2 linked regions of the Homo sapiens genome follow. The protein of the gene in region 2 interacts with the protein of the main gene of each other region in a biochemical or structural test. Each region holds a gene or a part of one and is shown on either strand. Other genes may lie near its edges.

Region 1 (8,164 bases), on a different chromosome or scaffold from region 2:
AAAGATCTAAACTTATAAAATCAAAAGAAAAGCAATGACGGGTGTCCGCTCTAGGTTTCTATTTAATTCCCATTAGCCTATAAGTTTCTTGAGGGCAGTGAATGTGCCTTGATAAGTGGCAGTGTTTGACAAAGCTGTTCAATAAAAATACATTTATTCTGTATCTTTTTTCTGAGCACATGGCTAAACTACATTTCCCAGGCTCCCTTGCAATTAAATGTGGCCATATAACTAGCCCTCAAGTAAAGAATGTGAGAGGAAGTGATGGTGGCACTTCCAGGCTAAGGTATTTTAAAAGTGGGTGTGCCCCGTCTACTCTCTGTTGCCCCTTCTGTAAACTGAAACAGGTTACGATGATAAGCTATGGGATGGTGGAGCTACAAGATAGGGGTGTGGGACCCAGAGTCACTGCATGGAGGAAAGCCACCTACCGACCAGAAACATGAATTTTTGACTATTAAATGAGCAAGAATAAACGTCTATTGCTTTTGAGCCATTATATATTTGCAGGCCTATTTGTTACACCTGCTAACATTAGCCTAATTGATACAGGTGTTGAGCACATACCAAAGACCTAACTCACATTTGTTTAATGTTAAATGAAACAGAATACCCGCTAAGATAAAACTTGGTAGGAAACAAGATAAGTAAGATAAGGTTCCTTTTATCAATGTGCTGACCAATTAATGGTGGAAATAGACTCATGCGAAACATAATGCCTGCTGCCAAAGTTTGAAACCAAAACATGATGATTTGTTTGGAAAGGAGAAGATGGAAACGGCTTCACAGAGGAGATGACATTTGAGCTGGGCCCCAAAGGTTAAAAAGGACTTCGAGCAAGTCAGATGGGGTTGGAGATTCCAGACCCAGGAGAAAGCAGAGTGTGCATTTGCTCACATTCAACCTTATCATTAAGTCTCTTAAACTTGGTCAACAGAGTGTGAGTTTATGTGCTCTGGCTTTCCTTCCTGGGTCTGGCATCAAACAAACGACCCTTTGTTTTTACAGTACACTCATTAACCCTATTGCTTTTTTTATCGTAAAAAGTTCCACGATGAATGTTCTTAAAAAGTGTGTAAGTAAATATTTAATGAATCATAACTCTTTTCTAATAAAATTACTGAAGACTAAACCTACAGTTCTGTTACTTATAAAAATAGTCGAGGAGCCATACTTTTAGGAAAGAACAGGTTCAACTTAAGTTTTGACAATATCGATTAAGCATGTAATAGTCACTGGCTTACAAAACGGAACATTAAGCCCCCAGATTTACATTAACATTTCTTCCTTAAAGGGAACATCAAATGGTTTAGACTTCAGTCAAGATTCTCTACAGCCCCAGTTCATAGCCAAGTGGCCTCAAAGCCTCAGATAGTTAAACCACTTCCTCCAAAAGTCTGTGAGTCCCTTCATCTGAATACAGGGTACCCATGGAGCAGGGACTGGGGAAGAAGACAGTACATAGGGTGGAAAGTATTGCAGTTGCTTGGGTGGTGAGAAAGGAAGTAGGCGTCCCAAGACTACCTTGAAGCAGGCAAGAGGCAGTCTGCAGTGGTCTTCCAAATGCTAACTCTAGACCGTTTTATCCACGTCCCCAGGTATTTACTTCAATAAAAGGGTAAAACAACATCACTGGGCAGACAGGATTTCATTTCAAAAGACTTCAGTACAGTGCCCTCTTAGACTTGAGAGAAGAAGCCATTCAGGCTGCCTCCCTCTTATCAAATAACAATTTAATTCTGATTCAGAAACAAAATTCTTGTGACCCCCACACCAATCTACTCTACCCCAGCTCTTAGTACTTGTTCCCAAAAGGACAGGGGAAAGAACGAGGGGATGGGGAGGCTACCTTAAAAGTAAAGCAACTCTTAAGACTGCTGGGATAACTGTTCCCTTAAATCTAAGAAACACTGCAGCTGCCAGTCAACACTACCGGTCTCTGAACACAGCAAAATGCCGACACCTGCCACCCGGCATCCGGGGGTTCTTTTATTTTTTGGTAAATGTGGCAGGAAAGACTCAGAGAGATCAACTGCTTCATGGGAAAGAAAGGGAAGCCCCAGGGAAGAGAGACAAGAAGCATCGTGCCTATCCTAGGGTACTTTGTGTGTCTCCTCTCTATGCACTGAAAGGGCTCTTTGTGTCACACTCACACTCACACACCCGGCGAGTCTGTGTGATTTATTGGGGGAAGGAGGGGCAAGAAGGGTGATTTTATTATCCCTCTTCCCAGTGAGTCCCAGCACATCTCTGCTGGGCCCAAGCTCGGTGGCCTCCTTCTGGCCCAGTCCCCTCCGCCTGTGGCCGCAGAGATAACAGAGGGGAGGAGCCCAAACAAAAACAGCCATGGATCTAGGGAAGTAGAGAGGAAATCCAGCGAGGGAGCCGGAAAGGAAGGAGAAAAGAGCTGGAGGGAGCAGAGGGGTGGGGGACAGAGGAAGAGGAGGGAAGGCTCCAGCACAGGGGAAAGGGGAAGGGTGGGTGGGTGGTGGCACAGGAAGAGTGAAGGGGAGGATGGGGGAAGTGCAAGGGAGGTGCCAGAAATAGGCAGGAGGATGGGTTGGAGAAGGCGACCGCCGCCGAGGGAGGAGGCCGAGAGGTGGAGGAGTGGGGCAGGGGTTGGGTGGGGAGGGAAGCAGCACGGGGCATCAATTATTAAGTGATTACATCATCCCTGACATTAAAACAACACACACAGCCCCAGTCCCCGCGGGGGGCCCCAAAAGGAGGGCGGGGGCGGAGTCTGGGCCAGCCTCGCCCCCAAGCCAATTCCCATTTTCACCCGGCGCCCGCTTGCGGGCGAGGAAATGGGGTCCCCATCCCCGCGCTGCCTCGGGGCCGCACCCCGCAGGGGTGTCCTCCGGTGCAACCGCGGGAAGACCCCAAGCACCGACTCCCCGGCAGCCCCGCGGAGCGCCCTGGCGGCCAAGGGACCGCAGCACCGGGCCCTGCGGCGGGGGCGGCGTGCGCGGGGGCGCCGGCGGCCGGGCTTCTCCGCAGCATCCCCGAGGCCTCCCGCGACGCATCCCCGCCGCCTGCTTACCTGCGCGGCGCTGAGGCTCCGGAGCCCACTCACATGGTCCTCTCCCCGCCCTCCTCCGGCGCGGCCGAGGCGGCTCCGGGGGGTCCCCGGCGGGCCCGGGAGCCGGTGGGCCTTCCGAGAGCACCGAGGGGGCGGCGCCGGGGTGTCCCCGGCCCGGCGGCCGAATCCCTCCCTGGCGCGGGCGGCGGCCGCCGGGCGGTGCGGCGCGGGCGGCGGCTTTGTGTGCGCCCGGGCGGTCCTCGGTGCGCTGGGAGAAGCGCGGCGCGCCCGGGCGGGAGAGGACGCGCCGCTCGCACAACAACCTCGCCTCTACTCTCGCCGCCGGGCGGCGGGCGGGTCTCGAAGGCCTTCGGCTCGCGGCGACCCCTCCTCCTCGCCCGCGGCAGCCCCCTCCTCGCCGGCTCCGCTCCTGACAGATGGCGCAACTGCAACGACGCGCCGCCGCCACCAGCGCGGCTGCTCGCTGCTACTCTTGCTGATGCTCTGCCCCTCCAGCTCCGGAGGGGAGCGAGGAGGGGGCGGGGCGCGCCTCGAGAGTGACAGGCCCGGCTGCCCTATCAAAGAGCCCCTTGGGAGCTGCGAGCCGCAACCATTGGCGCCTGGGGCGTGGGCGGGACGGCAGTAGGTGGGGCCGCCGAGTGGGTTGAGCGTTACTGTGGCAGCGGGCATCCCAGGGTGCGTGCGGTGCAGGGTGTGCAAGAAAATGCGAGGTTGGAGGAGGAGGTCTGTGTGTTTTTAAGGATTGTGTGGAGTTGTGAGGTGGCGGAGTAGGGCGGGAGAAAGAGCGGAGAGTGTGAACTGCAGTTTCCGCTTTGCGGAAGGTTGCAGCTGCTGCTGCAGATTGGCACCTGCCATTCCCCCAAAACCATGGGAAACTGCCTCGAGACAGGGCTATCTTGCCTTTCTGGTGTCTTTTCATTTGAGGGTGAGAGGATGAAATGGAAAATTGGGCGGTGATAGCAGCGTTTTCTTTGATCAAACTGAAAAGAGTACGGAGCAAAGTAGAATCCTGTCCTGAAACGTGGAAACGCACAACAAATAACAATGAGGAGGAGAAGGAGATTAGGATCATTTTATCAGTCCCCTATTTCTGCGGACACTCATTTATATTTTTTTTCTAGCAAAAGTCTGGAGGAAGTATTACTGAAATAGGGGGAGGGGCCAAGCGGCGACTAAGGAACCTGAAATGACAGAGATTTGTTCGTACATTCCCCGCCCCACCCCCAAAAAACCTCGTTTAATTGTAGTCATTGGTTGTCTTTGGTTTCTCATAACATTCAAACTTCTCATGTTTTTTTCCCCTTCACTGAATCTGAGCTTTTGCTCATATTTCCCTTGATGAAATAATTGCCGGTTTAGTATACAGTTGGGAGTGCATCGGTCTTTATTTCCTATCCAGCTTTTCTATGGCAGGATGTAACTTCATAAAAAGAAACACTTTGGCTTCCTGATTTTCTTTATAGGTAATTCCTGTTTACTGAAAGTTCTGCTTTAAGGCATACTCAGAATCGCTCTCCTTAATGATTTTGGCAAGAACCCTACCTTCCCCCTCAGCAAATCTAATGTTCTAAGAAATTATAAGTGAATCAGCTTCTGCTTCTGTGCTCAAAATCTATAATATTGCCTTTCCGGCCCACTACTTGTTTTTACTGTAGTTTAAAAAAATCTGTCCCTTTTGCTGACTTTTTTCTTTTTGTACACACTACTTTTTAAGAAAAGTTGCTAACATTTATTAAATGATCTGCATCCTATGGAGGAGGAAACTGAGGAAAAGAAAAGTTAAGTAACTAACTCAAGGTGACAGTATACAGAGGTTACTGGATTTTTTTCCTTTTCCTTAAACAAAATGACAAATTAAACCATGTTTAAATTGTGTCTGGAAATTCCATAATCCCAAGAAATGGAACCATAGCTAGGACTAGGATATTTCCATACAAGAGAAAGCCAGCTTCATTTAGCCAAGAATTGCTTATCTCAAGAGCAGAGGCTCTTCGTCCTCAGGGCTAGTCCGCAATGGCTGCTCTGGGTTTATTTGGATTGGGATGCAGAGGCAGTTGGGTAGAGCAATGGTTCTCAAACTTTGACATGTATCAGAAATAACTGAAGGGGCTTGCTTAAACATGAATTGCTGTGTTTAACCACCTGAGGTTCTGATTTAGGGGGTTTGGGATGGTGCCCAAGAATTTGCACATTTAGCAAGTTCCCAGGTGATGTTGATACAGCCAATCTGGAGACAGCACCTTGAGGACCATAGTTCTAGAATTGGGCTGTCCGAGGAGGTAGCCACTAGCCACATGACTGTTAAGTACTTGAAATGTACTTCAGTATTGGAAATTTGGCTACTGCAAATTAGGATGTGCTGTAAATGTAAAAGATGTATTAGATATTTCAGATCAAGCATGAAAAATGGAATGTAAAGTATCCCATTTTAATATTGATTACATGTTAAAATGATAGTCTAAATGTACTGTGCTAAATAAAACATTATTAGAGTTAATTAAATTGTTTCTTTTATTTTTTAAATGCGTCTACTAGAAAATTTTAAATAACCTATGTGGCTCAAGTTATATCTCTATCGGGCAGCACTGGTCTGGAGTTGTTTCTGATTCCAGCTCCACAGTTCACTGTTGGGAGCGCTTTGATGAAGCAAGTCGCTTATCCTTTTTGAACCTTAGTGTCCTCATACGTAAAATGGGAAAAATAGTAAAACTGTTCTCAAACTATTCCGGACAGACTAAGTGTCATATGCTCTCAAGAAAAAAACACTCTTAGGCTATATATCTCCTTGAAATCTCATGTTTAGTTCAATCTATCTTACGCTAAATCTGGAAATCTGGAGTAGGTGGGATAAGTCCTCTCTCTCTCTCTCTCTCTCTCTCTCCCTCTCTCCTCCTCTCTCTCTGTTTCTTCACGAGAAGTCACTTCTTAGTGTCTGCAACTGTAATAGCTTCTTGATCTAATTAGTGGACAAAGAGACAATGTGATTAAAATGACAGATTAACCTGCTCCCATCAAGACTTCATCCTGTTTTTTGTAATTCTTTGCTTACCTACTTTTTTATCTGTTGCCCGTCTTAAATGTAGCTTTAAATGGATTTGGACTCCTCAGGAGGATTTGCTAATGGTCTGAACAAGTGAATAGAGCACTGCAAAAGATTTGTATACTATTCCCGTTTTGATCTTTTCTGCCAATCTCTACCAAGAACTTGATTAAAGATCTGAGACGCTGTCCCTGGCCTACCCAAGGTAAGTAATATTGTCTTCCACAACCACCAGTTTTGTTTTCTTATGAGTAGCTTCTATTATACAAATTAGAATGTAGTCATTGTTCTAGAACTTCTCTTTGATTTTATTGATATTGTTTATATATTTTGTATTTTTCTACTTGTTTTACCTTAAAGTTTCCTCTTTCTATTCTGGCTTTCTTGAACTTGTCTCATCTGAATCTTATATCTTGCTTTTAAAGTAACTTTTTTTTCTTATTTTTATTAGCTAAAACATTTTCTTGTCTTATTATTTTATTTTAGTTTTAATCTTCTCTTAAATGTCAACTCAACAACAACACATATGGCAAGGGTAAAAACCCTCAATGTAGAGTTTTTACAAATCAACAAGAAAATAAAGATGAACGTTCGAACTGAAAAATATGTGCAACAGAAACAAAACCCAAAATGGCCAGTAAATGTGATAGGAGGTTCAACAGGAAAATGGATATCCATACCCTACTAGTGGAATTTTTAATTGGTACAACATTGCTGGAAGGCAGTTTAATAGCATTTGTGAAAAGCCTTTTAAAAAAATGTATACATTTGACTTAGCAATTTTACTTCTGGGAAAGAATGGAACAAATTTGCAAATACACAAACACAAGCGCACATATCATGGGAATAATTGGAACATTGTTTATAATAGTGAAACACTGAGAAAAGTTCATTGATAAGGGATTTGGTGTGTAAATTATGTTATATCTATAATAGAATACTATATAGCCATAAAATTATAACATTGCCATTTATTTATTTATTTGTGTGGAAAGATGTTCACAACAAATTAAAATTAAGAAGAGCTAATAAATTAGTATTGTGTTTGTATGTGTACATATGTATGTTTATATATATGTATTAATACACATATATTTCCATTATTTTTAAACTTATTTATATGTGTAAATTTTCATAGAAAGCAATACATACACAAAAATTTTAATGATCATTTCCTCCAAGTAATCATATTTTAGGTCATTGTTATTTTATTTTTTATCTTTTTCTTAATTTCCTCAACTTTTTACATTGGGCATTTATTATGTTATTAGAAAAAACAATAAAAACTTATTTTAAACTTGTACCTTTTTTTGCTACTTTAATTCTCGTTTTTCTTCCTCTGCCTCCTGTCTGCTGTTTTTCCTCCCTTTTGAAGGCATATTGCCCCAGGGTAGTGTTCAGGAATCAAGACCAGGACCAGAGGGAGGCCTTCTGCTTCCATCCACCCACAGACACCCTTCTTGTTTCTGGTGGGTCTTCTGGGACTTGCAGGAATGATTCTTATAAAACTTCACTTTGAGGCTAGGCATGATAGCTCGTGCCTGTAATCCCCGTGCTTTGGGAGGCTGAGGCCAGAGGACTGCTTGAGCCCAGGAGTTTGAGACCAACCTGGACAGCACAGCAAGACCCCATCTCTACAAAAAAAATAAATGCCAGGTGTGGTGGTGTACACCTGCCGTCTCATCTACTTGGGAGGCTGAGATGGGAAGATTGCTTGAGCCTGGGAGGTCAAAGCTGCAGTGAGCTCTAATTGCACTGCTGTAACAGAGTGAGACCCTGTCTCAAAACAAAACAAAATGAAAAAAACAAGCAAAAAAACCCCTTCACTCTTAGAGTGGGACACCACTGCTAAAGTGGCCCCAGGGCTAACCTGTCTGTACTTGGCATACCTGGTTCACTGTTTACCTCTTTCTTCTGATGCCTCATATCAAGTCCATACATAAAGAGTTACATATTTTTATATACACAATCTTTAGAACACAGCCAATGGATTTAGGGCATTTTGGGTCCACAGCTTGCCATGAGCCAGCAGGAGATGGTCCTGGAAAAATCTCATGTGGGAAGGACATTCCATACAACAC
Region 2 (7,673 bases):
ACTGAGCATTAAAACCCTACAACTCTTCCAACTTCCTGCTTTTACTAAATATAAGATTCTTTTTTTGTTATATGTTTACTAAAGTAGAGCAGGTTTTTAGAGTCGTGGTATGTATGGATTCAATAAAATGGAAAAAGGTGATAATGCTAGTTTTGGGAAATATTCACCCAATATGGTTAAACAAAGTTTCATTCTAAGAACCTCATTGTTTTTTCTGGATTTGTTATTTTTTTCTTGAGTATGCACATCCATGTAAATATGCGCAAATAATGTAACTGGAATTCTTTCACCAAAAATTAAGGGAGTGTGCTTTTTAAAAAACAAAAGGCACACACAAAGTATATACATTGGTAATATGCTTGACATAGTCATGAAAATTCTGTAAGTTACAGAATGTGACGATTTGGAACTTCATCTGGCCTCAAAACTGGCATTTACTGACTCACACTAGGTCGATGTTTGACTAAAGTCAGTTAATGATCTCCAAACTCTAGTGCATGCATTGTATGTTTTGGTATATGTTGCATAATTTATGTTTAGAACATGGTAAGAAGGCATAGCCGGCTGTAATTCATTTTAGAAAGACAAAACTGCTAGAAAGCAGCATAACAAGCTTAACTGATACCATGATATAAAAGATCATAAGAGGAAAATTTAATTCTTCATGTGCTTTATAAGTGTATTACTAATTTGGTGTTTTAGAAATGGCTGACAATGAAGATTGTTTCCTTTGAAATTTGAGTTATGAAGAATGCAGACACAGTTTTACCCAGGTGAAGAGCTAGCACAGATGATGTTTTTTGGGATCACAATGGAGGTTTCCTAGTTTTATAAAGTAGTCATCAAAAAACTAAAGTTCTGAACTGGACCAGAGATTTTCCTCCTTTCAACTTGAGGGGATTATGGCTTTAAACTGAAAACGGAGGTGTTGGAGGAAAGAAGGAATGAAAGGAGAAAGGGAATGGAAAAGTACAAAAGAGACAAAAGAATGACAAAAAATCAGAGCTGGAACAAAGAGAAGAAGAGGAGAGATGGAGAGAGGAAAGAAGCAGAAGACTAAGAAAGGAAAGAAGAGAAGGAGAGGTACAAGGGAGGGATGGCCAATCTCCTCTCATTGGTCCTCCAGAAAGGATGTTCTATTCTGTTCCTCTATACCAGGAAGGTGTTCCCATAATTCTTGAAGTGAAGGTCATTTTAATCTAGTGGAATGGGCCGTGGAAAGTTGGACCCTTAATTGATACCTAGGGATCATAAAAAAACGGAGTTTTTACTTTTAAGGAGCAAACTGGGGTTGCCATAAAAATCATTTTTTGTCGTATTTTCAAAAAATAACAACAAATATATTTAGAATCAGAGATTTATGAGAAAAAATGGGCTAAATTTTATATTTTATGCTTCATATTTTACCAAATCATATTTCATTAGGCATATCCCTAAGATCAAGTCATAATGAACATTATAAAAGTGTTTTAGAATGAAAACACATTTTACAAGATCTGGCAAATGGCCCACTATATTTCAAGTAGTATTTGATGCATATAATCAAAAGAAAGACTATGGAGTTTCAAACGACCTTTCACCCATGTTGGGGTTATTGTAAGTGGTCATTTAGTTTAGTGATAGAGAGCAGTAGGAGTTATGGAGGGTAAAATTCTAGGATCTTAATATACAAAATTTCTGACAAGGAGACAGTTTGATCTGTTCTACAATACGTACTTGCACATACCTGCTAATATCATCCTGCTCTGCAACATCATCATATACTTCTTGGTCATCTTCAATAGGTCTTGAAGGGGCACCAAGAGAGTCTTTTTTCAGTTTCAAAGAATCATAGTCAATCTCTACAGCAGTTGTTTTAATATAGCCATCTACCAAAAAGGGAAATATTTATGTTCAGGCAACTGTAGTTTAAATATTTTAAAGTTGTGAATAAAATATCAATTGCACATTTGCTCTTTAAACTTTCCCCTGATTTATTTTCTTGTAGTTCTGATTTGTAGACCTCCCAAGTAGACCCAAATTTTACTGTACTCTGTCAAAGTCTAATCCTGTTGTAGTTTAATGTAAGCCTACCTTCTATTTTAAATATTCTAAAGTGATTCACATGAAGCATTTTTTCTTTTTAACATCAATGAAAAACCTAATGCTGTTCGTTCCTCCTGGAATAATATAAAACTGTACGTTGTTTCCCACAATATAGATAACAGATGAGGTGAAGACGGAACTATACCTGCCATTTAACATTTTCCTCCCTTTGTCCACTCTGTAAAGTACTCCTAACTCGATGCCTATGACGAGTTCTGGAGGAATATGTACATTGAATATTGCCTCGCAAAGAAAATACTTCGAAGCCATAGAGAAATTTGCACTCACATGAACCCCTTGCTGTTCTGCCCAACCATTTTCCTTCTGGGTTGTCTGTGATGCGGATGATTTCAATTTGCTCTCCTTGCTTGAAGCTCAGTTCATTCTTTCCTCCTTTGACATCACAACAAGCTTTTGCAAGATGGATGACTTGAATAGGGCCTGTTAGCTGCAAAGAGAAAAAAATAGTCACAAAAGATTTCCTTATAATTTAGAAAATCTTTAAGGAATGCAATTTTGAAAGATATAAGTCTACAACTTGCTAAGCTACCTATAACCAACATTTACAGGGTTTAACCAGAAATTGAGGGTGAATGTTTTTCTTATAGGAGGGGTTAGGGAAAAATCACAGGGGCCAAGCAGGACCAGCTAAGACAGGTGAACATGTGCATGGGGTCAGGAGAGTGAGGCAGGGATCTGTTGACTAGGAATTCTGCAAGAGGCCTGCAAAGGCAGCCCCCAATAACTGAACAGCGTTTATGTACAACAATCCATGCTGTGTGCTATGTATCTTTATGGAATATGCCAGGATTCTGTTCAGAAGATGGAGTTTTTTCCCCTTTGCATTGTTTGTAAAATTGGAGCAGACATTACCTGCTATAAACAAGATAACATTTCAGAAATAAGCTTGTAAATCAAATAATAGCAAGCAAATGTTACACGAGGTTTTTCAAATTAATATTCTGAACAGTATGGTGGCTTATTGATAGAAGGATAATGATGTTGGTTAGACTATGAATCCTAAACTCTTAATTTTCTAATCCTAAATTGGTGTCTTTTCAACAGAATTTCTTGAATCTTTTGATATGCAAATATGCATGACGACTTTTGAAGAAGCTCTACCTTTAATTTATTGAATTTATGATGGCATTAATTATAAACATTTATCATTATCATGTACCACTAAGAAATAAAGAAAATAATGTAAGTTAAGTTATGATATGCCATGATGCTGATGAGGCTCAGTTCTCATATTTATTTAATTTTTTTTACCTATTATCTATTATCATCTTGTGAAAGGAATATGGCTGGTGAAGTCCTAGTTTTGACAGACTTTTGAGTTCATATTTAATGGTATGATTTCCATATCCTATCTTTTCTTACTAAAAATATTATTTGAATGAATGAGATAATGTAAAGCTGAATTCTCCAGAAGAAACATGGAAAAACCCCACATAATTCCTTTAAATCTACAATTTCTTCATGGAAAGTATACTATATAGATTTTTGTTATTTTTTTTTGAGATGGAGTCTCGCTCTGTTGCCCAGGCTAGAGTGCCGAGGCCCGATCTCAGCTCACTGCAAGCTCTGCCTCCCAGGTTCATGCCATTCTCCTGCCTCAGCCTCCCAAGTAGCTGGGACTACAGGTGCCCGCCACCACGCCTGGCCAGTTTTTTGTATTTTTAGTAGATACTGAGTTTCACTGTGTTAGCCAGTATGGTCTCAATCTCCTGAACTCATGATCCACCCACCTCGGCCTCCCAAAGTGCTGGGATTACAGGCCTGAGCCACCACGCCTGGCCTACGATATAGATTTTCATAAATTAATTGAAATTAATTTTTCACTTGAAAAATATAAAGATTGGTAGTCATGCATTCTGTATAAGTAAAATGTTCTAATATTAATACGGTAATCATAATTTTACTTACATATAGCAAGCTTTTTCAAAATCAAATGAGAATCTTATGATACAGTGTATGCTCTGCATTATTTTAGTTCCATAACAAACTTTCTGGAGTAGTATCATTTATCCTTACTTAAAAGATTAAGAATCAGCGGCTCAGAGAAGTTAAGTGAGAAGCCCAAGATCACATAACTTGTATGTGCAACTGGAATTTGAATCAGTTTGTCTGGCTGACTTGATGCTATACATTTTCCTTGCACCATGCATTGAACCTTTGCTTTAATGCAATAAATATACCGGGAAGTTATATATAAATCATTTTTAAAGAAATTTGAACCACATATTAAATGCTCCAGAGGAATAAAAATACTTAAAGAAACCATACAGTGAATTCTTTTTGAAAGAATAATTTTGTAATTCAGATAATCACCCTAAATATGTCTGACATGCCAGACCCATGCCAGATGAGCCATGTCATCAAAGATGGTGTAGCCAGGAGAAAATAGCCCCTGAGTGTAGCGTTTACTGGTGGTAGTAATGGTAGAAAACACACAATTACCAGAGATCAGAGAATACAGAGGTCAGAATCCAGACAGACAAAGAGGGATGAGAAACAGCAGTTATCAGAAGTCAGCATGTACACAGACTTAAAGGCAACAATATAACTCATGTATAGATACTAGCAATTAGAGTAGATCATGGAAATCTTATTCTGAGACAGGTCTGGTTCACCCTGGAGGCACTTGTGTCCAATGCCCCCCTATAATACATACCACAGGGATATTTATGTGTGTGATGCTAATTCATAGTATAAGTAGGCTAATATGAAATGCATTATGGGGAGAGACAAGATGGGTTTGAAAAGGTAAATATTCATTCACTCAATCAACATAAAATTTCCTGGGTGTCCACTAATTATGAACCAATATATTTATTTAAATTTTATTATATTAGTTCAGGGATAAAATGGTGTATTGGACAAAAAAGTACTGTTATGAAGATAATTACTCTTTAGAGAATAATGAATAAGTAATTCTTCAACTATGTAAGTTTTCAAGAATGGTACCCCTTTTGTGTGAAAGGTATAAAAAGATGTTATTCTTTCACTCATTAGCAAGCAAGCCCTTACTTTAAATTTCTTCTTTATTTCTTGTTCTTTCTTTTCTTTCTCTTTCTGTTCCTTTTTCTCCAGCTCTAACCTCTTCTTTTCTTCCTTTTCCCTTTTCTTCTCTCTTTCTTTGGATGCTTCTCTGTGAGTAAAAATTGTTAGGTTGTTTTCACATCTGCAGGTGTTGATGCGTCGGAACTCCCTACCTAGAAGTTTCTACTCACAACAGAAAAGGTGGTATCTGAAGTACAGTTGAAGGTAAAAAGCGAAAGGTTGTCAAAATCCGGAATGTGTGAGATTATTTTTAAAACCAGTAGGAGGCACACTGCTGAGGATACCTTCCAAAGGCTCTGCTTTCCCTGACAACTTGTGCCAGCAAGTGGAAGCCACCGTTTATAGAGGCCCCATTCTTGCTGTATGTTCGCATAAATAGAATCCATCTCTTTTTCTCTCTTTCATATGCACACGTGCCTGTGCATTCACAGGTACACATATAAACCTTGGCTCTGAAACTTGAGTCAGAATTGGTTGAATAAACACTGGGTAGAGAAAATTAAGGTATCTGAGATCAACATATGATAAAGTAAGATAATATATTCATTTCTACTTTCACCCACTTTCCAAGAAATTTCGTTTCCAAGAAACTTCTTTGTTTAACATCTTTCCACTTTAGCAGCTGACACTCTGACCTCTGGGCGTCATGATAAATTATTTTTCATAGCACCCCGTGGGTGGAGCTCTGTTCAGGTGAAGAAGGCGTAACATAAATTAACTCATCTGCCCAAGGATACACTAAGAGTAAGAAATCAGATTTCTGTCTCTGATTCCCTGACTGTGGTTTATCTCAGAGGCATGTCTCTGGCCTCTCACACAATAGCTTTTTAACAGAGTCCTTTGTAGAATTCTTAGAGAACTAAATAATTTTGGGTCCTTTAAATTGAAATAAAAGTTATTATACGCCAGTCATTTGAACAAATCAAGCTTCCCTCCTAGTGTTGTTATATACCCACTCTCCCTCATACAAAACATTATATTCATCTTTGAAGAAAACTGTCATGGTAAAAAATGTAATTCATACATGTCTTCATATGTTTCTCCTTCACTGTCTTGTTCCTGTAAAGAAAAACATTGATAATGATTAATTTTTATTATTTAAAAAGTTGACACACATATTACATTGCTTAGACTTAAAATGAAGGCAACAATGTAAATTTTTATAATTTGAACCACATATTAAATGGTCCAGAGGAATAACTACTTAAAGGAGCCATACTGTGAATTATTTTTGAAAGAATAATTCAAATACTCAGTAAAACAACTATTGTATGTAAGTTTGGCTTATTTAAAATATTTTTTTTCTCCTTAGAAATAGACTGGGAAAGCAAAAACAAAATTTCCTTTTCTATCTTGCTATATAAATCAGACGTGTAGTCAGACTTAAGTTTGTTCAGCACTACAGCATTATAATGAGTCAGTGTGATGACTAGTGTGTAACATCTTAAGCATTTTAGATGAAATAAGATTAGAAATGGAAAAATATCATTGCTCATAAGGATTTTCATTTGTTTGTTTTGTACCAATACGGAGTGAATCATAATACTTGTGAAATATTCTGATTATGTCAATATAATATGAGAAGAGAAAAAAATCTGACCTCATCTAGATTTCCAGCACCTAAAAGATTAAAAAAATAAAATTTAATACATTTGTAATAAGGAAGCACTTTAATGTAAGATTATTGGATATGATATAATAATATTCAAAATAGTTCATAATCTAACAGAACTTATGCTTTATCAAAGATACAGAAATAGAAAATCAAATACGTACTTTAGATCTTTACTATGGCTTTTATTTGTGCTGGTGACTTAATTATAAAATCATTTCATTGGCTTTCATAAAATAATGCAAAGGGCGAAAAATAATTAATACACTGTTTATTACCTTTATGAAAAGGGATGTCCATTTGGTTTTCTGGGCTTGCATGGAAAAAGGTATTAAAAAATCACTGTTTCACACCTTTTTACTTATTAGTTCCCAAGGATTTGTTTTTATGTATCAAACAAATCAAGTTAATTGGATTAAAAAAATTTAATAAGAGTTCAGTGTAATATCAAAACTAATTACTGAATATTGAAACAGAATCCAATATTAAGAGCAATAATATAATAATATTAATAATAAAAACAGTGTGGTGTTGGTATAAGAACAGGCAAATAGACCAATGGAATAGAGCAGAAAATTCAGTGACATACACAAATGTACATAAACACACCCATAATATACACATACACACACATAGAGCTGATATAATATAAAGGTAGCACTATAAATTAATGAGAAAAGGATGGATTGTTTAGAGTACAGTAAGGAGAAAACTGGCTCCATACATGAGGCAATTCTGGATTTCTACTAACTCCTCAAAGGGGACTGCAAAGAGATCAAAGACCTAAATATATTTATGTGATAAAGTCTACAGGAAAAAATGAGAACATTTTTATTTTCTAGGAAAAAAGACTTCTTAAATAGCATGAATTACAAGGCAAAATTAATACATTCGATTATATCAAAATTTA

What was found.
Region 1: the proteins of FYB1 (region 2) and FYN form a complex in vitro, tested with the Homo sapiens proteins (2 studies listed by BioGRID and IntAct).

Annotation. Positions count from the first base shown.
Region 1 is NC_000006.12:111,869,925-111,878,088, forward strand, and holds the start of FYN (tyrosine-protein kinase Fyn), read right to left. Parts: upstream 3,529-8,164; 5' UTR 3,044-3,528; intron 1-3,043. UniProt on the Homo sapiens protein: Non-receptor tyrosine-protein kinase that plays a role in many biological processes including regulation of cell growth and survival, cell adhesion, integrin-mediated signaling, cytoskeletal remodeling, cell motility, immune response and axon guidance.
Region 2 is NC_000005.10:39,132,482-39,140,154, forward strand, and holds part of FYB1 (FYN-binding protein 1), read right to left. Parts: intron 6,772-7,673; coding exon 6,752-6,771; intron 6,211-6,751; coding exon 6,176-6,210; intron 5,637-6,175; coding exon of another isoform or gene 5,402-5,636; exon of another isoform or gene 5,240-5,401; coding exon 5,119-5,239; intron 2,534-5,118; coding exon 2,374-2,533; intron 1,869-2,373; coding exon 1,727-1,868; intron 1-1,726. UniProt on the Homo sapiens protein: Acts as an adapter protein of the FYN and LCP2 signaling cascades in T-cells. May play a role in linking T-cell signaling to remodeling of the actin cytoskeleton. Modulates the expression of IL2. Involved in platelet activation.